7 linked regions of the Homo sapiens genome follow. The protein of the gene in region 1 interacts with the protein of each later gene in a biochemical or structural test. Each region holds a gene or a part of one and is shown in the gene's direction. Other genes may lie near its edges.

Region 1 (2,387 bases):
GATATCCCAATGACATGATTAACTACTTCTAACAAACAGTCTCTGTAGAAAAGTAGAGTAATTTGCCTCAACACATATATGATCATAGAATTGTAAAGAGAACCTTAAGGAAATCTGAAAGACAGTATAATCTAATTGCTTCTCGCCACGGAACTGAGATGTTTAAAAGTGAATCCCTTGCTCGTACCCAGCAAGCTAGAGAGGATGGACATCAAGGTCTCCCAATTGAGAGCCCAGTCACAACCATTATCCCCTACAGTCTTCAGCACAATGTGGGGAAATGTAAATAACCATTAGAAATGTGCTGGATAATTATGAAAGTCTTTATAACTTGTAAAAACAAAGTTCTGTTCATCTGTGATTTCATCTTAGCGAATTTTTGATAGAACAGCCTAAATTCTTTGATAGAACAGCCTAAATTTTTACTTTAAGACTTTAAATAGAGCAGTTTTAACTTGTCTAAGATTTGCAGGCAATAGAGAAATATACTGTCTGTTTCTATTACTCAGCATACCTCCTGCCTACCTGCTTGTCTTAAAAAGTGTGTGGTAAACCAGCAGATATTTAGGAAGAAACTAATAGTTGCAATCAAGAACCTATTATATCTAGATGCAGTGGCTCATGCCTGTAAATCCTGGCACTTTGGGAGGCTGAGGTGGGAGGATAGCTTGAGACTAAGGCTTCTAGACCAGCCTGGGCAACATGGTGAAACTCCATCTTAAAAAATTTTTTTTAAAAGAACCTATTATACATAGCAAATAACTTTCCCAATAACACTGCACTACAGTGTTTCTGTGGTAAGGATTTAATTGTACTTATGTTAATTGATCTTTCCTTTCTACCTTCCTGGGGTGGGTTCTCACTCTGTCACCCAGGCTGGAGTGCAATGGTACCCTCATGCTCACTGCAGCCTTGACTTCCCCAGGCTCAGGTGATCCTCTGACCTCGGCCTCCCAAGTAGCCAGGACCACAGGTGCGTGCCACCATGCCCACTTAATTTTTTGTAGAGACAGGCCTTCACCATGTTCCCTAGGCTGATCTCGAACTTCTGGGCTCGAGCAATCTGCCCGCCTCAGCCTCCCAAAGTGCTGGGATTACAGGCATGAGCCACCACACCTGGCCTGTTTTTTGAATATTCTAATTCCATTGTTACCTTGAGATAAATGAAGACATTACCAACCTGATTTACTTAAGGCAGATCCTTGAAGATCCTGCCTGAATGAACTAATGGAAGACCAGAGTTCCCTTATCTCAATGAGCTTATCTGATACAGTATCTATATCATGTGGTACCTGTAATTAGAAAAATCAAAGTCAGTCATAAACATTTAATAACCTATATCAGAATGTGATGTTTAATAACCTATATCAGAATATGATGTTTGACCGTGTCACAATATTGTTTTACCTATCCCATGCCTCTATTCCAAATGAAGGAAGTGAAGAATGCCTGGGCACTGTGGAAGGAGGGAAGGTCAGGTGTTTGGGGGATTTTGATAGGAATCAGCACTAAGCACAGACTATTTTCCTGAAAGGCAGATGTGTATGAGCTGTGGCTTGGCAGTTAAATACCACGAGGCAAGAAATTGGACTCATTAAATAAAAATTTGACTTTGGTTCAAGGTAAAAAGAGGTATTAAAAAAAAAGCTAATTGCACTGTTAATGCTTCCAGAGCTTTAGTAGATATAATTTGATAAGAAATATTTGGGAGACAAGCTTGTCAGAAAATGAACTCAGCTGCATTCTTATGCTCAGAGTCTTTCTTCTCTCTTGCTTCCCAGGGTTCTTGGGGATCTGGAAAGGATCAGTATAGCAGGGAACTGCTTGTGTCCTCCATCTTTGCAGCTGCTAGTCGCAAGAGGAAGAAGCCGAAAGAAAAAGCACAGCCTAGCAGCTCAGAAGATGAACTGGACAATGTATTTTTTAAGAAAGAAAATGTGGAACAGTGTCACAATGATACTAAAGAGGAGTCCAAAAAAGAAAGTGAGACACTGGGCAGAAAACAGAAGATCATCATTGCCAAAGAAAACAGCACTAGGAAAGACCCCAGCACGACAAAAGATGAAAAGATATCACTAGGAAAAGAGAGCACGCCTTCTGAAGAACCCTCACCACCACACAACTCAAAACACAACAAGTCACCAACTCTCAGCTGTCGCTTTGCCATCCTGAAAGAGAGCCCCAGGTCACTTCTGGCACAGAAGTCCTCCCACCTTGAAGAGACAGGCTCTGACTCTGGCACTTTGCTCAGCACGTCTTCCCAGGCCTCCCTGGCAAGGTTTTCCATGAAGAAATCAACCAGTCCAGAAACGAAACATAGCGAGTTTTTGGCCAACGTCAGCACCATCACCTCAGATTATTCCACCACATCGTCTGCTACATACTTG
Region 2 (3,500 bases), on another chromosome or scaffold:
AGGCCTAGAGGCAGGCCCCGTGTAGAGTGGTGGGCATGGCAGGCGCTCAGCAGGCGGGGCGGGACGGTGTGGCATAAGCTCGGTTTGACACTGAGGGTAGTGGGAGACAGGTCAGTGTGAGGGGCTGGGTCCTGCCACAAGGAGGGGAGGTGCTGGGCTCATGAGGCCGAGATAGCAGAGACTCAGGTGCGAGGGGTCCTGGAGGTGTGGGAATCAGCTGACAGGGTGCGGCCAGAGGGCGCTGGTGCTGTTGGGGACCCTGGTCCCAGCCTGAGCCCCGGGGTGGCTGTGAAGCTGTTTGCAGGAGGAAGATGCAGCCATGGGGTGGACAGGAAGGCCATGTGGTATGGGAGGTGCCAGGACAGGGGTGGACCCCAGTCGCCTTGGAGATGGCCAAGGTCCTGGCAGTGGCCAGGATCCAGTGGTCCTGTAGCCCTAGGGGCCCTGACTGCAACCAGGCCGGGTTCCTAGCGAGGCAGGGGAAGGGCTGTGGGGTCTGGAGGGAGGCAGGAAGGGTTCCACAGAGTCATCCCTCCCTCCATCCCAGCAGCCAGCCCCAGGATGAGAACAGCATCCCAACCACAATCCCTAGGAGGGAGAAAGGCAGCAGAAGGGGTCTCCTGCTGGGGAAGGAGGGTGCCCAAGAGGGCTTGGCTGCCACAACGCCCTTCGGGGTCCTCAGCCGCCCTAAGCCTTGGGCCTGGAGCAGTGGGTACAGGGTAGCAGTCTGAGGCTGGCGCAGGCCAGGCACTGGGGGCCACAGGCAATGACCCCTCCCACGCCCCCTCCACTTAAGGTGGCTGGCAGAGTCGGCACGATGGCTCCTCACCACAGGCAGGCTGGATTGGGGCCTGCAGGAGCTGTGGAGGGTGGCTGCCATCAACGGAAAGGGGGCAGTGCAGGACACCCTGACCCCTGAGGTAAGGCTGGGTCCTCCTCAAACCCGGACCCTCAGACCCTCTCCCTGCCCCTGCATAGGGCACCCTGGGAGACCCACCAAGGACCTCAGCTCCCTGGGAAGAAGGTCTCAGAGAGGAGGAGGTGCCTGGCGCCCCCAGTGCCAACAGCACCCACCCCCGCCTCCACAGGTCTTGCTTTCAGCCATGCGGGAGGAGCTGAGCATGGGCCAGCCTCCTGCCAGCCTGGGCACCCTGCTCCGCATGCCCGGACTGCGCTTCCGGACCTGTATCTCCACGTTGTGCTGGTAGATGCCCTTCCCCCAACCCCACCTCCACAGGGGAACCTGGAATCGGGGCTCTCGCTGGCACACGGCCCCGGCCTCTGCTGGCTCCGCTTGGTCCCACTGGCCTGCAACACCGACACCTTCCCCTCTGTCAGTCACTCCCGACAGGAGACAACCCAGGCCGGGTGGGCTCACTGAGGGGGCCTTAATAAGGGGCAAGGCAGATAAAAGAGATGCAGTAGGTAGGATCCCTAACAAAGCTCCTGGGAGGGCTGGGAGCCAGGCATGACGAAGGGGTGATCCAGGCAACAGCATGGGCCGCAAGCACCCCTGCCTGGTGTGGGGCCAGGGAGGGCGGAGAGGGCTTATCAGAGCCCAGGACCCATGGCCATCCAGCAAAGACCAAAACCGCCAAGGCCAAGGAGGGAAGGACTGTTCAGTGGCAGCTGGAGCCACGGAAGGGACATAGTCACTCCCAGACAAAGCCCCCAAGCAGAGAGGGAGGCAGAAATCCCCTGCTTCTCCCCTCCTCCAACCTCTTGCCAGCACCTCCCATCAGCCAAACCCAAAGGGAAGCCATGCTGGCAAGGGGACCTGATAAACATAGTCTAGAGACTGGCCCCGCCCCACAGAGCTGGCAGCTGAAGGGCCAGAACACTGAGCTAAGAGCAGCACACCCCCACCCTGAGCCCCCACCGCCCATTGTTCCCACCCTGCCCACCACCCCCCCCCACCCCCCACCCCCACCCTGACTTCCCTGACCCCTGCCCCAGGTTCGCCTTTGGCTTCACCTTCTTCGGCCTGGCCCTGGACCTGCAGGCCCTGGGCAGCAACATCTTCCTGCTCCAAATGTTCATTGGTGTCGTGGACATCCCAGCCAAGATGGGCGCCCTGCTGCTGCTGAGCCACCTGGGCCGCCGCCCCACGCTGGCCGCATCCCTGTTGCTGGCAGGGCTCTGCATTCTGGCCAACACGCTGGTGCCCCACGGTGAGGGGGCAAAGCTGTACACCAGAGACTTCCCTACCTTGGGGGGGTCTCGGGCTGGGAACAGCACCCCTCCTTGGAGGTGCTGGACTAGAGCAGGTACCCTGGTAGGAAGGAGGCTGCCGGAGCCGTCTAGGGACAGACGGCAGTGTCTGCACTGAGCCAGCAAGAGCGGTGAAGGAGTGGCATGGGTGGCACCAGGGAAAAGTGTGGAGTTAAAATGAGAACTAAGTGATGGATTGCAGGAGGAGGGAAACGGGGTCAAGAAGGACTCCTCGGGGCTGGCTCTGGGTGTCTGAGCGTGGAGCAGATTGTGGGTGTGGCCATGAGGCCACTCAGGACAGGATACCCAGATGGAGATGACTCCCAAACATTTACAAAGAGGCCTGAAAGTCAGGGACAAGCCCCCTGGGCTGAAGGGAGCCCTCATCTGATCTTGGGCCCCCCACCAAGCTCACTAATCCCATCTCTACCCACAGAAATGGGGGCTCTGCGCTCAGCCTTGGCCGTGCTGGGGCTGGGCGGGGTGGGGGCTGCCTTCACCTGCATCACCATCTACAGCAGCGAGCTCTTCCCCACTGTGCTCAGGTGAGGCTGGGCCTGGGCTCCAGGAGAGGGGAGCCCTGGGCTGAGCTGCGGGGCACCCCCAGGCAGGACTGGCTTCTCCCAGACCTAGATGTTCATGTCATGCATCTCCCTCTTGTGTGGTCCCCGGGGCTGCTCAGGTGCATCCCAAGCCCAGCCTGACCCCCTGGGTCTCCCTGGGCCAAGCGGGCCTGGCCCGGCGTGCAGGATCAAGGCTGTGGGCACACAGACCAGGCGCTTATAGGTGCATCTGCATTGGCAGGATGACGGCAGTGGGCTTGGGCCAGATGGCAGCCCGTGGAGGAGCCATCCTGGGGCCTCTGGTCCGGCTGCTGGGTGTCCATGGCCCCTGGCTGCCCTTGCTGGTGTATGGGACGGTGCCAGTGCTGAGTGGCCTGGCCGCACTGCTTCTGCCCGAGACCCAGAGCTTGCCGCTGCCCGACACCATCCAAGATGTGCAGAACCAGTGAGTGGACCCAGCCTCGGGACCACCCCTCCCTCCCACCAGAGAACCCTAGCACAGGGCAGCCTGCTCACCCATCCCCATCACTTGACAGAGGCGGAAGCAGAGGCCCAGACAGATAGGATTGGCCCAGAGTCACACAGTACATCTCTGGGAGAGTGGCAACCCAGGGCTCAGTCTCCGGCTGGCAGTGCTTTGACCTAGGGCTTTGTCCTCTGCCTTTCACTCCACCATTCAAGGCACAAATGGACAAGCTCCCCCAGGTCCACCCTGAGAGAGGCCAA
Region 3 (3,500 bases), on another chromosome or scaffold:
TTCAGTGTTTGAAAGACTTCAAATTGATATTCAACACTTGTGTTTGAGTAAGTTGTGTAACTTTCCATTGGTCTACAAATAAATCATAACTGTTTTAAACTCTGAGGTTGCTTAGAAATCCAATCATGCAGAACTGTGCTTCAGGGAAAACAGTCAAATCAATTCATTGTTAATATAGAATGTTTTATATAATGTTTTTAAATAGATGTAAATTGAATTAAGGTTGAGAATTTTAAAAATTTTCAGTATCAAGTGGAAATGAAGTGTTATATTAGGGAAGAGTTTAAAAGTTTTATAATATGTACTTCTGTTGTTTCTTTGTCCTGTTTAAATTAATTTTGAGTCTGTTCAAACTATAAACTAGCCTTCTGCCTGCAGTTAACGTGACTTTACCTAAACCATGAAAGAAAATGAGATATTTCTCTGCCTAGCTAATGTGTAAAAGATACTTCCTAGAATTTTAAATTGTACAAAAGAAGTCATCACTGTGGGATTCATATTCCATACACAAAACACACACAGACACATACACACACAAACTCCTCAATCAACCTCTGTAGTGCCCTTTTTATACCTTTTCTATTTTTCAGATTATCCAAAGAAAATAATGCAAACATATCTTTGCAACCTCTTCCATTCACCAATTTTAATCCAGCCATGAAAAGCAACCCAGCATTTGTATAGAAATCAATGTATTTAAAATTATTTAGCTGAATATATTAACTTTCTGATGTTATGAACCCTAAACAAGTTCTTATGTTATATGTTGGGTTCCATAAAGTGATAATTTTTGTTTGAGTCTCTTTCAGGCTAAAATTCAGAGACTCTAATTAGTTCTTTCTTTTGGAAGGCCACATTAATATGTACTTTATTTCACTAGACAGTTAATTCTCATTTCCATTTCAGACAAGATTCCTGTGCTAAGAGAAGAAAAACTACCTGTGGTAGGAATTGGAAAGCATCTGTGTGGTATGGCAACAGGTACGTAAACATACTGATAATGTTTACATTAATGCATTAAGTTTTGGCCTAACCTGGCCCCAACCATTTCAGTGGTCTCTTTTGAATAGATATCTTATGTTTACAACTCAATAATCTTTATAGAGCACTGGCCCTGTGCTTTATTAGATGCATAGCTTTCCTATTTATCTGCTCATATTGGCCATTTTGCAGGATGAATTAAGAGTTTTGTATGTAAATACTGCATCACATTAGACCTTAAAGTTCTTTGGGTTAAATTTCAACCAGAAAAGGAAAATAAGACCATTTATGGAAACTGTATGATTCCACCTAGAAGCTACTGATTTTTTAGAGTAGTTGCTTAGAAAGAACTCAGAAACCTCTTCTACTAAAAGACTATTGTGTTTCAGGATTCTGGGGAAAAAGAAAAAAATAAATGTTAGACAAAAAAAAAAAATCTAAGATGTCTTGTCTTAGCACTTTGATCCATCAGATCTAGCATGGTAAAGTGGAAACAGCATGTGCTTTAGAATCAGATAGTCTAGCCTTCAGCTTTGTTGTGTAACCTTGTCAAATTACTTAACCTTTCTGAGCTTTGGTTACCTCATCTATAAAACAGAGATACTAATATATTAATAATTTACCGGGTTGCATGTAAAGTGTCTGGCACATAATAGTGCTCAATAAATGTTAATTATTGTTACATCATCTTCCTAACTTTTGCTAGTTTCATCATCTACCCATATGGATTACTTGGAGCATCCATAGATATTATTCATATTGGCTGGAAATGGCATTGAGTACTATATATTTGTGTTGGCCTTCATAGTTTTTAAGACTATAGTCATGTACAACATAACGATGATTTGGTCAACAATGGACTCATATATGACAGTGGTCCTATAAAATTATACCATATTTTTACTGTACCTTTTTTGTATTTAGATACACAAATACCATTGTGTTACAGTTGCCTACAGTATTCAGTAACATGCTGTACAGGTTTGTAGCTTAGGAGCAATAGGCTGTGCCATACACCCTAGGTGTGTAGTAGGCTACACTACACCATCTAGGTTTGTGTAGTACACTCTGATGTTCCTACAATGATGAAATCGCCTAATGCATTTCCCAAAACATACACCAATAGTTAAGCAATGCATGACTGTACTTTTGCATACCTTATCTCATTTAAGCCTCATAAAAGTCTTCTAAAGTAAACCAGTTCCATCCCGGGGGTAGGAGGGAGTACACTCTTTTGACCTACAGTGGCCATTTCTCATGTTCCACATAATTTTTTCCCTTGATTCACTGTATCTGAATCCTCCTTTTGTCTCTGCTGCAGTTGCTTACCCTTTTTGAAATTCCATTTTCTTCTCTTTTGCGATACTCTTATTTCCTGGTTCTTCCCCTACATCTATGCCATTCTTCTGTTTATTTCACAGTCTCCTTCCACTTCTGTCCTTAAAATACTAATATTCAGGCCAGGCACAGTGGCTTATGCCTGGAAACCCAACACTGGAGGCTGAGGTGAGATGATTGCTTGAGGCTAGGAGTTCAGGATTAGCTTGGGCACATAGGAAGACCCCATCTCTACAGAAATTTGTTGGGCACGATAGCTTGTGCATGTAGTCCCAGCTATTCAGGAGGCTGAGGTGGGAGGATCACTTGAGCCTAAGAGTCTGAGTCTGCAGTCAACTGGGATAGCACCACTGCACTGCAGCCTGGGTGACAGAGCAAGACCCTATCTCAATCGGTCAATCAATCTCAGACCCATCTGCTACACAACTAATGTGTCTTTCCCTTTAAACTCTTCGGTACTTCCTGATATAGTCCAAACTCTTTGACATAACGTTTTAGTCTCAATCTGGCTTCAGCCTTCCTCTCTTTACATTCCCTGTCTCCTACTTTGCTGTTCAGCAACATCAAACCCTGTGTGCTTTTCCATAGACTGTACTATTTCTACTATATCTGGAATTTCACCCCCATTCACCTACTCACCCAAACAAAACAACTGGTCAATTTTTACTCATCCTTCACCTCAGTTGTCACCACTCTCAGGGAGCTCCCTTAAATAAGATATGCCTCCTTGGTGTTATCATAATACCCTCTGCATATTTTTACCTTGTGGTATTTTAATTATCTGTTTATATATCTAATTCTTCCACCATGCTCTGAATTTTTTGAGTATATGGTATATACTTAGTACGATGCTTGCTATATAACAGGAACACAGTGAATATTTGAATGAATGAATAATCTTGGCTACCAATTTGCTGTGTTTCCTTGTCCCTTTCTGCATATGTGGCTTTGTCTTTTAAGTTCTTTATAAAAGATGAATTGAGATAAATTGCTAAAGCTCCTTCTAATTCTGAAATAACTTAATTCTTTTTTTTTTTTCTTCGAGACGGAGTCTCGCTCTGTCGCCCAGACTGGAGTGCAGTGGCGCAATCTCGGCTCACTGCAACCTCCGCCTCCCGGCTTCAAGCGATTCTCCTGCCTCAGCCTCCCGAATTGCTGGGACTACAGACTCGTGCCACCAC
Region 4 (3,500 bases), on another chromosome or scaffold:
ATCATTAAAAATGAAAATGAAGACAAACAAAAAGAAGAGGTCAAGAAGGAAAAATATGGAATCACTAAAGGCAAATATACATATTCTAAATACTATGAAATTGACCTTTTATTTCATATAGATATGTCTGTATTTTAGTCTAACACTATGATATGCTATGCTGTGTTGAGACAATTTGTCATCAACAGTCACCAGTCAAGAATACCTAACTAGTCCGATTCTTCCTATGGTACTACTTGAAAATAAATATTATAATTTGGAAGCTGAAATATTTCAGATCAGCATTTGTGTAAACTTTTATGTCAGTCTTGGCACTCTCCTCTCTCTCTCTCTTTCATATATATATACACACACATATATATGTACACACACATATATATATACACACATATATACACATATATATGTACACACACATATATCTACACACATATATACACATATATATGTACACACACACATATATATATGAGAGAGAGGAGAGAGAGGGTCATGTATATATATACACACACGTATATATATATATACACGTATATATATATACACACACGTATATATATATACACGTATATATATACACATATATGTGTGTGTATATGTGTGTGTGTATATATATACGTGTGTGTGTATATATATATATATATATACACACGTATATATATGGTCCCATTTGCTCAAAAAACCGATTTTACAGAGAACATAGGTTGAATTGAAACAAAATGAACAAGCAAATTTAAACTAAGAACAAAAGTAGGAAAAAGTATACTCTAATCTTAATAGGTAGTATAGTTTTGTAACCAGTGTGTTAGTTTAACGAAGAGCTTCCTGGAAGTTAAATCAGAAAGAAAAAAAAAAACATGATCGGTGACCCACCTCTCTATACTTGGTAGAGGGAAGAATAATAATTTTTAAACAGAAGCAGTTCTCCAAGGAAGAAATTGTAAAAAAATTTAAAAATGATCATAAGATACATGATACAGGTAATATTGAGCCACATAGTGGTTTTCCAGCAAATGAAAGGGTAAATTGCATGTAACATTTTTTTTGGTACAGAACCTCAATAAAAGCTCAAAGTATAATTTACAGAAGGTTTTTCTGTGGGAAACTAAACTAAGATAGCCTAAGTATTTAGTACTCAAGAGCACTGATGCTCAAACTTGGCTGCACATTGGAATCACCTAGGAAATTTTAAAAATGATTGATGCCTGAAAGTTCTGTAGTATTCCCAAAAGGTCAGATTTAATTAGTGTGGATGTGCAGCCTGGCTATTGGAACTTAAAAATGTTTATTTGACGGATGGTGAGGGTCTCAGTTTTCTGTCAAATGGGGATAATAATAGTACTTACTATAGAATTGTTGTGTGAAGGTAAAAGACATTCTAGCACACATTATTATTAATACTGATACTAGTGTTAGTACTTTTATGTTGTCATTGTTGTTTCTATCATCACCCATAAGTTACAATGTCAATTTGCATAGAATTTTTCTTAACAATTGTAAATTCTCTTAAATCATAATTGAGCATAATTTAATACATCTTTGGTCATTAGGAGCCAACTCAGAATCTTGCAAATTCTCAGAATCATTCTGATGATATTAAAAACTCTTCTTAAAGGATTGTTATGGACTGATAGACCTCTTGCAGTCTGCAAGATCAGTTCCATTTTCAAAATTAGGAAAGAGCTTAGCTTGTTGCAAGACATAGAAAAGAAACTTGTGCTACTGAAACTCATCTATTAGGACAGGGATGTCAACAAACATGGGTGACTTAAAAATCTTCAGATAACTCTCTCTCCTGTCAGGTACCCTATTCATAAATATAAATTTTACAATTATAACTCATTTACTTGCATTAATCTGTGTGTCCTCCTCTTCTAAATTGTTTATTTATTGAAATTTTGTTCCAGAATGAATTGTGAGCAGTTTATTAAGCAAACCAAGATTGTGCATAAGAAAGTCAAGACAGAGAACATGTGGACAGGAAAAGTGAAAGGAAATTAAAAGTGAGAACTTGAGCCTGAATGGTAGCAGTGTGACCAAGAACATTTACTAGAAGCAGGCCACACATTACTAGAGGCAGGCCACACATTACTAGAAGCAGGCCAAACATTACTAGAGGCAGGCCACACATTTGGCTCTGTGCTTTTTCTAACAGGAATCATTTTTGATTAAATCATTTACATAGTCCTTAGAATGTACCAAATGAATCAGCATCTCTGAGGATGGGACCTGGATGTTGGTATTTTAAAAAATATCTCCAGGTAGATCTTGCTGAGAACCAATGGCAGAACCACTGAAACTGTTGTTCTGAAGAAGCAAAAAAAAATTCCGGATACTTGAGAACATTCATATCTCATTAATTCCCACACATCTTTATTTCAAATGTTCAGGGAGTGATAAAATAAATATTTGTGTGAAATCTTCTTTATCAACTCGATTTTCCTCCAGACTTTACAGAACAGAACAAGCATCTTTCATTCTAATGAGCTGTAGAAAAAAGAATATATTAATAGAAGAACAAAAGGTTAGTAATAAAATGCTGTGGACGTAGACAATATTTTGGTCACTTTGTAGTTTTGCTTACTGATCTTTAAGACTCAACAGTGACTTATTGAGGGCAAAACTGTTGTGTTCTGATCCCTACCCAGTCAGCTACATCACTGACTTCCAGAAGCCACCAAAACATTGCTATGACTTCAGCTTTCAAGGGGAAAAAAGAATTAGCAAACAATACATATTACAAAATAGTAAAAAACATAATTTGTTGAGGAGGTGGATGTTTCAGGAAAAGCCAGTCACAAAATGCAAAGCCAAGTTCGTTTGACACAGTTGTCATTCTTTCATTTCAGATTTTCTACCTTTCATGAAAAGTCTTTCCTGCAATCCAATTTATATGCTTTTCATACTTGTAAGTGTGATACAGTTCAATGCATTCGTTAACATGATCTCCTTCATGCCTAAATACCTAGAACAGCAATATGGAATATCATCTTCAGATGCAATCTTTCTAATGGGTATGTTTGTTTTTCTCTGCCTTACTAGCACACTTTCCCCCCCACGAACAGTGTGATGGCGGGTGTAGCAAACTCCTAAGTTGAAGTGTTTTAGGATATTTTTTGACTCTGGTGGATTTCTTCCTTCTAATCTCAAGAAAGAAAGAAAGAAAGAGAAAGAAAGAAAGAAAGAAGGAAGGAAAGAAGGAAGGAAAGAAGGAAAGAAAGAAAGGGTAGGGAAGGGAAGAGGTCAGAAATACCTTGATTTTCTTCTCTCTGAAGTCAGAATGTGAATTCATAATATGAATGCAAATATTTGGGAGTGCAAAAATTACATATTTTCAGATAGGATTGTGCATTTTACTACCAAATTTTACTCTTTTTGGTTCCAGTTCAAGGATTCTATGTTCCTCCTAATTTAATTTTTTGGTCCCCCTAGTGGTTTTAGGTGTCTCTGCAGCCACACACATTCGGCTTTTCCTGCAACCACACTAACCTCAGTGGTTT
Region 5 (3,500 bases), on another chromosome or scaffold:
TGGGCCAAATAATTGAAACTTTTTCTGCTGCAGTTGTGGGTAATACAAACAATAAAATAGAAAAATAACATCTACTACATGGATTGTTCTGAGGATCAAACTGTTCACTTTTGAAAGCAGGTAACTTCCAAGCTGTTATGTAGGAACAACTTGCATTGTCACTGAATTCTTTCTACTTACTAGACTCTGCTCTTTCTCATGTATATTCCTTGTCTTCCCCAAGTTCCTCCACGTCAAAGAAATCTGTTGTAATTTCAACAGTCAATAGTGCCTTGATTCATGGGGATCATGCCAGGGGGTGGTCCCATAAGTCTTGTTTGTTTGTTTTTTGAGTCAGGGTCTCACTCTTTTGCCCAAGCTGGAATGCAGTGACCTGATCATCGCTCACTGCAGCCTAGAACTCTTGGACTCAGACAATCCTCCCACCTCAGCCTCTGGAGTAGCTGGGGCTACAGGCACACACCATCACACTCAGCTAAGTTTTTGGGTTTTTTTTTGTATTTTTGTAGAGATGAAATCTAACTATGTTGCCCAGGCTGGTATTGAACTCCTGGGCTCAAGCGATCTTCCTGCCTCAGCCTCCAACAGTGCTGGGAGTACAGATGTGAGCCACCATGCCCAGCCCCCTATAAATATTTCTTAACTGACAACATAGAGGATTCTCCCAAATATCATAGAGCTGGCTTTCAGGTAATCTATCCCCAAAAGTCAGCAACTTTAAAGGCAAATGGTAGTCATAATTTTTAAATTTGTCTATTTTTTCTATCATTTGTATATTCATATATGAATGTGAACCATATACATTTATGCCTATAGTACATATTCAGGATCTAAAAAATAAATGTTTTGCCAAATATTAGGATAGTCATGCCAAGATAAGATTCACAAAATTACTTATGTCAAATGTGTAATATACATACCAATGAAAACTTATTTATATGTTCTATATTTTATAGTATACCATGAATCTAACAGAATTCAGATGACACTAACTTAGGGAGAAGTTGCGAACCATAAAATTACAATTAAAATTAATCTATAAATTAAGTGACATAAAATTCCTTAAGAAAGAATGAAATAGCCAGGCCTGGTGGCTTGTGCCTGTAATCCCAGCAACTCAGGAGCCTGAGGCAGGAGGATTGCAGAGGCCAAGAGTTCAAGACAATACTGGGCAATGAAAGGAGACCCTATCTCTACAGAAAATAAAAAAGAATTAGCAGGACTTGGTGACATGCACCTGTAGTCCCAGCTACTTGGGAAGCTAAAGTAAAAGGATCCTTTGAGCCCACTAGATCAAGGTTGCAGTGAGCTATGATCACACCATCGCACTACTACAGCAGGGGCAAAATTGAAAAGAAAGGAAAAGAGAAGAAGAAGAATGAGATATGCCCAGGGAGTTAACAAAATAGGTCACCGTGGACATTTACCTTTGAAAGCAATATTTGCTTAGGATAAGCCAAGATGCTTATAAGGATATAAGCTGCCTGTTGACAATTCAAGGTTGATAGGATTCTGTAATGACTCACAATATTTGCCAACCCTCCCAAACCTTTGCTTCACCAAATGTTTGCTTAAGATGAAGAGTTTGGCATTAGGCACATGTTGAAATTCACCTGGGAGAATTTCCCTTCAGAGCGCCATGAGGTGACATGGCAGCTGCCCCCATGGTACACTCTGAAGGAACCTAAAGGACCATTGACCTGAGCATGTTCTCCTCTTGTGACTTTCACCACCCTCCCCGCCAAGGGTGTGCCCCCCAAAACAACAGTGGTCTGTAGATGTGAACATTAACATGCGAATGTGCACTTCATTTTATCTTATATGTCTGCACCCTAACAACTTTCAAAGCTAGTTTGAGGCTGTATGCAATAAAAGCATAGTACAATTGCCCAAAATCAATTAAGAAAATGCAGATCAAACCAAGTATAAAAAGCTTTGAACTTGAAATGTTTTCTCAATTTACTACCTTTGTCCTTTCTCTTCTTAGAATCTTAACTCCCTAGGACAGAGAATCTATCTTCTTTCCAGCTATGTCCCTGGCCTATGAAAGAGGTGCCTAGCACATAGTAGGCACTCAATAAATAAATGCTGACTGAATAAAACAATGAGAAAAGTAAGCAAAATAAATTTTTTTTTTAGCTAAAAACATCTGAATTTCTATGACTGGAAATTTAACCCTGAGCTTGCTAGTATCCGTGTGAAAGAGTCATCAAAGTTTACAGAATTCTTTGTCTAACAGAATTGCCAGAAAATAGAATAAATGCTTTTCTAGTTCCAAATTTTTTCATGAGAAACTTTCTTTGAGGGTAATGAGAAAGACTGACATCCACGTCTTTATAGATACTTTTTTTTAACACAATGTCTGACCTATGACTGATTTTGCTTTAGCGAAATGAGCAGGTAAAGTGTATTTTATATGTAGACACAAACAGTTATGTGTTATATGTATACACTAACATTTAGCACTGATTACTCTATCAAGTTTTTACCAGAAAACAGAGCCCGGGACACAAGCAACAGTTGATAAAACAGAAGAAAAACCTAGTTTAAGAGCAGAATAATGTTTAGCTGCACTCAGTGGCTCACATCTGTAATCCCAGAACTTTGGGAGGCCAAGGCAGGAGGAGCCCTTGAGTCCAGGAGTTTGAGACTGGCATAGGCGAAAAAGGGAGACCTCGTTTCTACAAAAATATATTTTAAAATTTAGCCAGGCCTGACGATGCACACGCGTAGTTCTAGCTACTCAGGAGGATGAGGCAGGAGGATCCCTTGAGCCCAGGAATTCAAGGCTACAGTGAGCTATGATCATGCCATTGCAGTCCAGGCCGGGAGACAGAATGAGACCCTCACTCAAAAGAGCAGAATAACACTTAGCTGAAGAGAGCATGTCCCAGAGAAATGTCGCAGCAGGTTCTGGGAGGCTGAAAGCAAATCAGTCATCAGAACATTTCCTGCCTCGTGCCTTTGTTCACATGTGTGTCAAATCCTATCCAGGGCTCAAACCACATTTCAAACACCCGGTATTTCTTAGCTTTTCTCCATCAGCTGCTGTAACCCAGTGTGCTAAGCATTTGCCATACAAAGACGCCAGTCACAGCTCCTGCTTCCATTGGGCTCACAGTTGAATGAGGAAAGCATTCTCTAAACAAATACTTGTAATTTAATATGATGACTGCTGTGAGAAACGCAATGCAAAGTAACATGCTTGGAAGAAGAAGCAAATTATATTGATTGGGGAACTGTTAGAAAGCACCAAAAAGTGGTAAAATTTAAGAAAGTTTTCAAGGATGAACCGGAGTTTGAAAAACAGAAAGAGGGCTGGATGCAGTGGCTCATGCCTGTAATCCCAGCACTTTGGGAGGCCAAGGCGGGTGGATGACAAGGTCAAGAGATCGAGACCATCCTGCTAACAAGGGGAAACCCTGTCTCTACTAAAAATACAAAAATTAGCCGGGCATGGTGGTGGGCGCCTGTAGTCCCAGCTACTCAGGAGGCTGAGG
Region 6 (4,027 bases), on another chromosome or scaffold:
CAGAACCCAAGAGGGGAGGATGAAAGCGAAGGTGACACAGGATGTGGCTTGGCAGAGAGGCGTGCACACAGAAGTAGTGGGCAGCTGGTGTGGGCAGCAGGGTGGTAGGGTTTGGGGAGGTGGAAGACCATGCTTCCCAGCTCCTGGCCTCCCTTCGTCAGCCCTGCGGGGGCCATCAGAAACAGCCCCGGTGTGTGTGATGGCTGTGCCCCTACAGGTGACTGCTTGGGTTCCAATTGCTCTCATTTCTGGAGGGGGACGGCCTCGGCTGCATTGTGGGGTGTCTTTGTGTGTGCATGTGAGGTATATTTCTGGATGGGAGTGTGTGCATATGCACACACATACATATGTGTGAGGGATGTGGCAACCGGTAACCATTGTCCTGGGAGTATTTGTATGTAGGAGAAAGGTGTGTGTTCTGTGTGGGCATGTGTGCTTGTGAATGGGAGTGTGGTACCTGTTGTCCTTCTGTGTATTTGTGAGTGTGTAAGGGCTGTGCAGGTGATTCCCGTAGCATATGAGATCTATAGGTTCTGTTGAATACTATGTCAGGAAAATGCGATGTGTTGGGCCTGGGTGAGAAGGTTGGAAACCATTGTGAATAGCTGTGGAAGGATGACTTTGTAGGAGAAACTTGTGAGTTCTTTGTTGGTGTGTGTGCGAGTCATTAAGTGACTTTGGTCACTGAGTGCGAGAGGCTGGGGTGGGAAGTGTTCGTTTAAGTAATGAGTGGGCATAATTGTGTAAGGGATGTGTTTGTTCTGCGTGCATGGGGAGCACTGTGTGACTTTTGTTCCCCTGGGTGCGATTTGGGGGAGCCAAGGAGGTATGGGTGGAGATTGTGAGTGGCTATGAGTAGGGTGTGCGAGAGCGGAGGGGAGGTGGTGACAGCAGCCCTCGCGAGTGTACACTTGTGAGCGTGCAGTTGTTTGGTAGCGGAGGGATCGGGGGAGGAAAGATGCGCGTCTGGATGCGCGCAGTGCGAGTGTGCCAGGCCGGGAGATTCAGTCCCATCCAGGCGGGCCGGGCCGGGCTGGGGGCAGGGCTTTCTGCTGCCCCGCCCATTCGTCGCCCCGCCCCTCGGACCGCCCCAGCGGGCTGCAGCGCAGCGGGCGTCCGGCAGAGGGCGCTGCGGGCCCGGTGCCACCGTGCGGCCGAGGGGGCGTGCTCGGCGGCGGGCAGGCAGCGGCCCGGCCAGCTATGCGGGGTCCTGCGGCCGCGGCTGGCGGCACTTCCTGGAGCGGCGGCGGCAGCGGCTTCCCGGGCACCTGGGCGTGGGGAGCGGGGGCGCGCGGCGCGGGGCGGGCGGAGCGAGCGCGCGCCATGGAGGTGGCGGGCGGCGCGGAGCGGGCGTGCTGAGCCCCGGCCGCCGGCCCGGCATGGGCGTCTCCCGCGGGCCCTCCGCCGGCCGGGGCTAGGGCCGGATGGAGCCGCGGGACGGTAGCCCCGAGGCCCGGAGCAGCGACTCCGAGTCGGCTTCCGCCTCGTCCAGCGGCTCCGAGCGCGACGCCGGTCCCGAGCCGGACAAGGCGCCGCGGCGACTCAACAAGCGGCGCTTCCCGGGGCTGCGGCTCTTCGGGCACAGGTGAGCGGGGCGGCGGCGGGGCAGGCACCGAGGCACCGGCAGGTTACCGCTCCCTCACCGGGGGACATTCCTCGGCCACTGGGGGTCCGGGCCACTTCGGTACTGACACTGAGTCGGGGAGAGGCTGGCACCGGCGGCACGAGCCGTCTTGGCGTGGGCACCCACTGGGAGTCATCCCCCAGGGCCGGGACACGGGCGGGATCGGTCGGCTTGGCACTGTCACCGGGTGGGGGTCATTCCCTGGCACCGGCAGTCTAGTGCGCCTCATGTGTAGTACCGTGGGAGGATCGGCTCCCAACCCTCCAGCAGGAAGATGGAATCACCCCAGCCCCCGGCACAAGCAGGTTGGGCCCCCAGGACTGGTCACCCACGCCTTCTTGGCACTGATAGAACAGGGCCTCTCTGAGCCTCCTGGCACCACTGAGGTGGGGATCACACCGCCCTTTGGACTTTCGTGGGACCAGGTTGCCTACCATCACTGCGTGGCATCTGCAGAACGTAGCCCCGTTGATACCGTCACCACACATGGCTTGTCCCCAAGCTCTGGTCACTGGTTTAATTGTTTAACATGTTAAGCTTCTCCTTGGGGTTGGGGGTGCCTGATCATCTGCCCTACCTTGCTCTTAATTAGCAGAGAGACCCCAGCCCATCCCTCTGCTAGGCAGGCAGCATGTCTCCCTCTACCCTCTTCCAGCCCATGCTGGGAAAGGGATGGGGTGGGCTGGAGTCTGGAATCTGCTGGCTGTTCAAGCTTCATCTTGCCCCCTCCCCCAGCACTCCAAATGTCACCATCTTGTGCCTGTGACAGAGCTTTGACCAGGACTCTAGCGGGGAACCGGGGGGAGAGTGTGGAAAGACTGAGTGCAGGCAGTTCATGGCAAGTGTGCTGCTCTTGGTCGTGAGCCGCTGCCTGCCCTGGTAGCCGTGGTGTAAGGTAAGGGACGTGAGGCCCCAGGAGTACCTGACCTGGCTCCCTGCGCTTCTTCCTGACCGAGCCTTGCCCTTCCCTGGTGGCCAAGGAGCTTGTAGCCAATCAGCCAAGGACCCCAGAGCCACCTCAGACTGAACTCTGACCACTTGGAGTCTGCCCAAGGCCTCCCTCTCACTTTTCTGCAGCTGCCTAGACTTGGTGGCATTCACCCCCACCCCGCCCCTTAGCTTTGCTCTGCCCCTTCCCTGGGTAGACTTTACCCACCAATAACATGGGCGGTTTTCTCCTGTCGTGTGGGCTAGCATACCCGTGATGCTGACTTGTGCCCTCTACCCGTCTCACCCGGGCTAGGGCCCACTCTTTGCACCTGCACTCTGTCTCTGAGCACATGCACAGATCTGAATTCTTACACTGGCAGATGGAGCTCCGTGGGCTCCTGTGTTACCACGCAGGCTTCAATGTCATATAAAACAGAGCAGGGAGTGAAACTTCCAGTAGCTCTGTTTTGTCACCCACAGCCCTGCAAGATGGAGCAGTTTACACCCAGCTCTGCAGGATGTAGCCTCCAGTATTCACAGGCTCCGCAGGGGGAGGGAGGGGCGCCACCAGAGGCTTCCTGTTGCTGCCCACAGGGTATCAAGTGTTGGGTTCTTCTGACCTGTGGCTGTGCCCCTTCTGAAGGGCACAGGTTTGTGGGTATAGGGATGAGCACATTCGGGAGGAAGAACAAGAAACCAGAGAACCAACAGATACCTTTATGTAATTCTCTAAAATAAGCAGGGTAGGTGGTATTCTTCCTTTTGTAAAACAAAAAAAAACCAATTTTTTGTAGAGATGAGATCTCACACAGCATTGCCCAGCCTGGTCTTGAATTCCTGACCTCAAGCAGTCCTCCCACCTCGGACTCCCAAAGTGCTGGGATTATAGGTGTGAGCCACCACACCTGGCCTGTTTCTCCATTTTTATAGATGAAAGAAACACAGTCAGAGGGGATTTGCTCAGAGTCACATAGCAAGGAAGAGGTAGAGATAAGGTTTGAAGTCAAGTTGGTGTGATTCCAAAATCCACATCCCTTTCTCTATACCAGGATCCCAAACGGAACATCACAATGGCCAAGGGAGCTTTAAGAAATACAGATTCCTAGATCTTCCCTTGGCGTGTCTGACCCATCAGGTCTGGAGGTGGGGCCTGGGCATTGTTTGAAGCTTCCCAGGTGATTCTCATGTCCCATCAAGTTTGAGAAGCACAGTAGTCCGTCACGCTGGGGAGTGTAAGTGCTCTTATAGGATGCCTGATGAGAGGAAAGAAAATTCAGCAGCACCTCTGGAAGCATGTAAGGAGTGTCCTTTGTTTGGGAGCACTGTGCTGGGGATAGTGGGGCCTTCAGAAATGAATACATTCAGAGAACCCAGTAGTATCAGGCAGAGAGCAGCAAGGGAAAGCACTTTCTCCTGGCAGGCCTGGGAGCTCACTGGGGCTGGCCTCCTTCCCTTTGACTTGATGGGGCCAAG
Region 7 (2,174 bases), on another chromosome or scaffold:
TTGGCCTCTCTGAGCTTTGCCCAGAAGACCAACAATCATACATACCCTAACTGGGACACCACTCTGCAGAATGCAGATGATCCATTCTGGAGGAAGCTGTCCCTTGAGCTCAGTGAGCTCCCAGGCAAGCAGGGCATCTGGCCGACTTCCCTCACAACAGCTGCTCCCACATCCCCTCGGACTGGAGCTTCAGCCCTGACTGAGGTGGGCAGACCTAAGACCTGAGACCACAAGATTAGCTCAGTGTCTACCAAGCATCTAGCCACTGTCCAGGGCCAGAGCATACCACGTCTGCAGTGCCTGTGAGCAGAGCCAGCAGTTGCCCTGTGACTGTAACCACCAAATTGTCCAAACACCCGCTGCAGTTAGCAAGAAGGGTAGGCTTCACCCTCCTTTACTGAGGAGAATGATGCGGAGGAGTTTCCTCTCCAGGGCTAGGCAAGGCAGGCGAGCAGCCAGAAGCCGGGTGCCCACAGGGCAGGGACAGGAAGGCTGTGCTGCTACTGGCTGCTCACTTCTCCATCAACCTCACCCTCTGCACCACTAACCAAGACCTTGTCCTCTTGCCTGTCTCGCTGCTTTCACAGCTGCAACGATTGTGTCTGCCTCATGGGGTTTTCCTCCAGAGCCTTTATTCTGTAGCCAGACGACACGAGGAGTCTGTGTCACTGAGCCAGTGCTTCTAGATGCTACCCTGTGTGGGCGGCACCTCAGGGACAGTAAATCAGAAATGCTGGTCTTGAAACCTTGAAAAGATCAAGCTGAATGTTCCTTTTCATCTGTCGCTGTTGATCTTCATCTATTTAAATAGGTATTCTAACGTTTCCTCTCTGTATTTCATGAAGCTGATTTCCTCTCTCTTTCCTTTTCAGCAATACTGGAGTAACCGCTTCCTAAACCATTTTGCAGAAATGTAAGGGTGTTCGGTTGCGTGCATGTGCGTTTTTAGCAACACATCTACCAACCCTGTGCATGACTGATGTTGGGGAAAAAGAAAAGTAAAAAACTTCCCAACTCACTTTGTGTTATGTGGAGGAAATGTGTATTACCAATGGGGTTGTTAGCTTTTAAATCAAAATACTGATTACAGATGTACAATTTAGCTTAATCAGAAAGCCTCTCCAGAGAAGTTTGGTTTCTTTGCTGCAAGAGGAATGAGGCTCTGTAACCTTATCTAAGAACTTGGAAGCCGTCAGCCAAGTCGCCACATTTCTCTGCAAAATGTCATAGCTTATATAAATGTACAGTATTCAATTGTAATGCATGCCTTCGGTTGTAAGTAGCCAGATCCCTCTCCAGTGACATTGGAACATGCTACTTTTTAATTGGCCCTGTACAGTTTGCTTATTTATAAATTCATTAAAAACACTACAGGTGTTGAATGGTTAAAATGTAGGCCTCCAGTTCATTTTCAGTTATTTTCTGAGTGTGCAGACAGCTATTTCGCACTGTATTAAATGTAACTTATTTAATGAAATCAGAAGCAGTAGACAGATGTTGGTGCAATACAAATATTGTGATGCATTTATCTTAATAAAATGCTAAATGTCAATTTATCACTGCGCATGTTTGACTTTAGACTGTAAATAGAGATCAGTTTGTTTCTTTCTGTGCTGGTAACAATGAGCGTCGCACAGACATGGTTTCAGGTAAATAAATCTATTCTATGATAAATTCTCAGTGTGGTGGTGACTGTTCTGTGGGAGGGGGACTGATGGGCACCAAGGGCCTCCACTCCGCACCCGGGCCTGCCCCTCTACAGGGAAGCAGGGGAGGCTCAGTCTGGGCAGGGTGGCCATGTGACTAGAGGGGACAGGAACCTCTTGGACTCGACTTCACAGTAGACAGGCTGACTGGCAGCAGGTCCGCCCATGTGAAGCCCACCCTGGCTCCCTACCCTTTAAGGATGGGGGAAGCTGAGTGTGTGTTACCAGTGGGGTCTTAAACACACAAGGCCTCACTCGTCAGTGTGGTGAAGAAAGCCAAGACTCCGCGCTCTCCATTGTTAGCAGCCTGGAAAGATCTGGAGACTAGCAATGGAGAGATGTTTCTTAGGCTGTTCAGATCCAAAACTTCCACATTCCCCGTTGTTGATAGGTATGGGATGGAGAGGTGAACAGAACTGAAGCAGCTGTTGGAATTCATTTGCTGGTTACTTTAGTGCTTATTTGGCA

What was found.
Region 2: the proteins of ARHGAP21 (region 1) and SLC22A12 interact in a test that uses a peptide from one of them, tested with the Homo sapiens proteins (one large-scale study listed by IntAct).
Region 3: the proteins of ARHGAP21 (region 1) and TRMT13 interact in a test that uses a peptide from one of them, tested with the Homo sapiens proteins (one large-scale study listed by IntAct).
Region 4: the proteins of ARHGAP21 (region 1) and SLCO1A2 interact in a test that uses a peptide from one of them, tested with the Homo sapiens proteins (one large-scale study listed by IntAct).
Region 5: the proteins of ARHGAP21 (region 1) and PALLD interact in a test that uses a peptide from one of them, tested with the Homo sapiens proteins (one large-scale study listed by IntAct).
Region 6: the proteins of ARHGAP21 (region 1) and DGKZ interact in a test that uses a peptide from one of them, tested with the Homo sapiens proteins (one large-scale study listed by IntAct).
Region 7: the proteins of ARHGAP21 (region 1) and ATP2A2 interact in a test that uses a peptide from one of them, tested with the Homo sapiens proteins (one large-scale study listed by IntAct).

The regions. Positions count from the first base shown.
Region 1 is NC_000010.11:24,585,501-24,587,887, reverse strand, and holds part of ARHGAP21 (rho GTPase-activating protein 21), read left to right. Parts: intron 1-1,781; coding exon 1,782-2,387. UniProt on the Homo sapiens protein: Functions as a GTPase-activating protein (GAP) for RHOA and CDC42. Downstream partner of ARF1 which may control Golgi apparatus structure and function. Also required for CTNNA1 recruitment to adherens junctions.
Region 2 is NC_000011.10:64,597,720-64,601,219, forward strand, and holds part of SLC22A12 (solute carrier family 22 member 12), read left to right. Parts: intron 1-796; coding exon 797-920; intron 921-1,088; coding exon 1,089-1,204; intron 1,205-1,956; coding exon 1,957-2,171; intron 2,172-2,647; coding exon 2,648-2,756; intron 2,757-3,015; coding exon 3,016-3,219; intron 3,220-3,500. UniProt on the Homo sapiens protein: Electroneutral antiporter that translocates urate across the apical membrane of proximal tubular cells in exchange for monovalent organic or inorganic anions. Involved in renal reabsorption of urate and helps maintaining blood levels of uric acid.
Region 3 is NC_000001.11:100,143,163-100,146,662, forward strand, and holds part of TRMT13 (tRNA:m(4)X modification enzyme TRM13 homolog), read left to right. Parts: coding exon 1-47; exon of another isoform or gene 48-52; intron 53-906; coding exon 907-981; intron 982-3,364; coding exon of another isoform or gene 3,365-3,500. UniProt on the Homo sapiens protein: tRNA methylase which 2'-O-methylates cytidine(4) in tRNA(Pro) and tRNA(Gly)(GCC), and adenosine(4) in tRNA(His).
Region 4 is NC_000012.12:21,296,918-21,300,417, reverse strand, and holds part of SLCO1A2 (solute carrier organic anion transporter family member 1A2), read left to right. Parts: coding exon 1-70; intron 71-2,849; coding exon 2,850-3,014; intron 3,015-3,500. UniProt on the Homo sapiens protein: Na(+)-independent transporter that mediates the cellular uptake of a broad range of organic anions such as the endogenous bile salts cholate and deoxycholate, either in their unconjugated or conjugated forms (taurocholate and glycocholate), at the plasmam membrane.
Region 5 is NC_000004.12:168,500,052-168,503,551, forward strand, and holds part of PALLD (palladin), read left to right. Parts: intron 1-3,500. UniProt on the Homo sapiens protein: Cytoskeletal protein required for organization of normal actin cytoskeleton. Roles in establishing cell morphology, motility, cell adhesion and cell-extracellular matrix interactions in a variety of cell types.
Region 6 is NC_000011.10:46,346,236-46,350,262, forward strand, and holds the start of DGKZ (diacylglycerol kinase zeta), read left to right. Parts: upstream 1-1,227; 5' UTR 1,228-1,424; coding exon 1,425-1,585; intron 1,586-4,027. UniProt on the Homo sapiens protein: Diacylglycerol kinase that converts diacylglycerol/DAG into phosphatidic acid/phosphatidate/PA and regulates the respective levels of these two bioactive lipids.
Region 7 is NC_000012.12:110,349,420-110,351,593, forward strand, and holds the end of ATP2A2 (sarcoplasmic/endoplasmic reticulum calcium ATPase 2), read left to right. Parts: 3' UTR 1-872; coding exon of another isoform or gene 873-886; 3' UTR 887-1,674; downstream 1,675-2,174.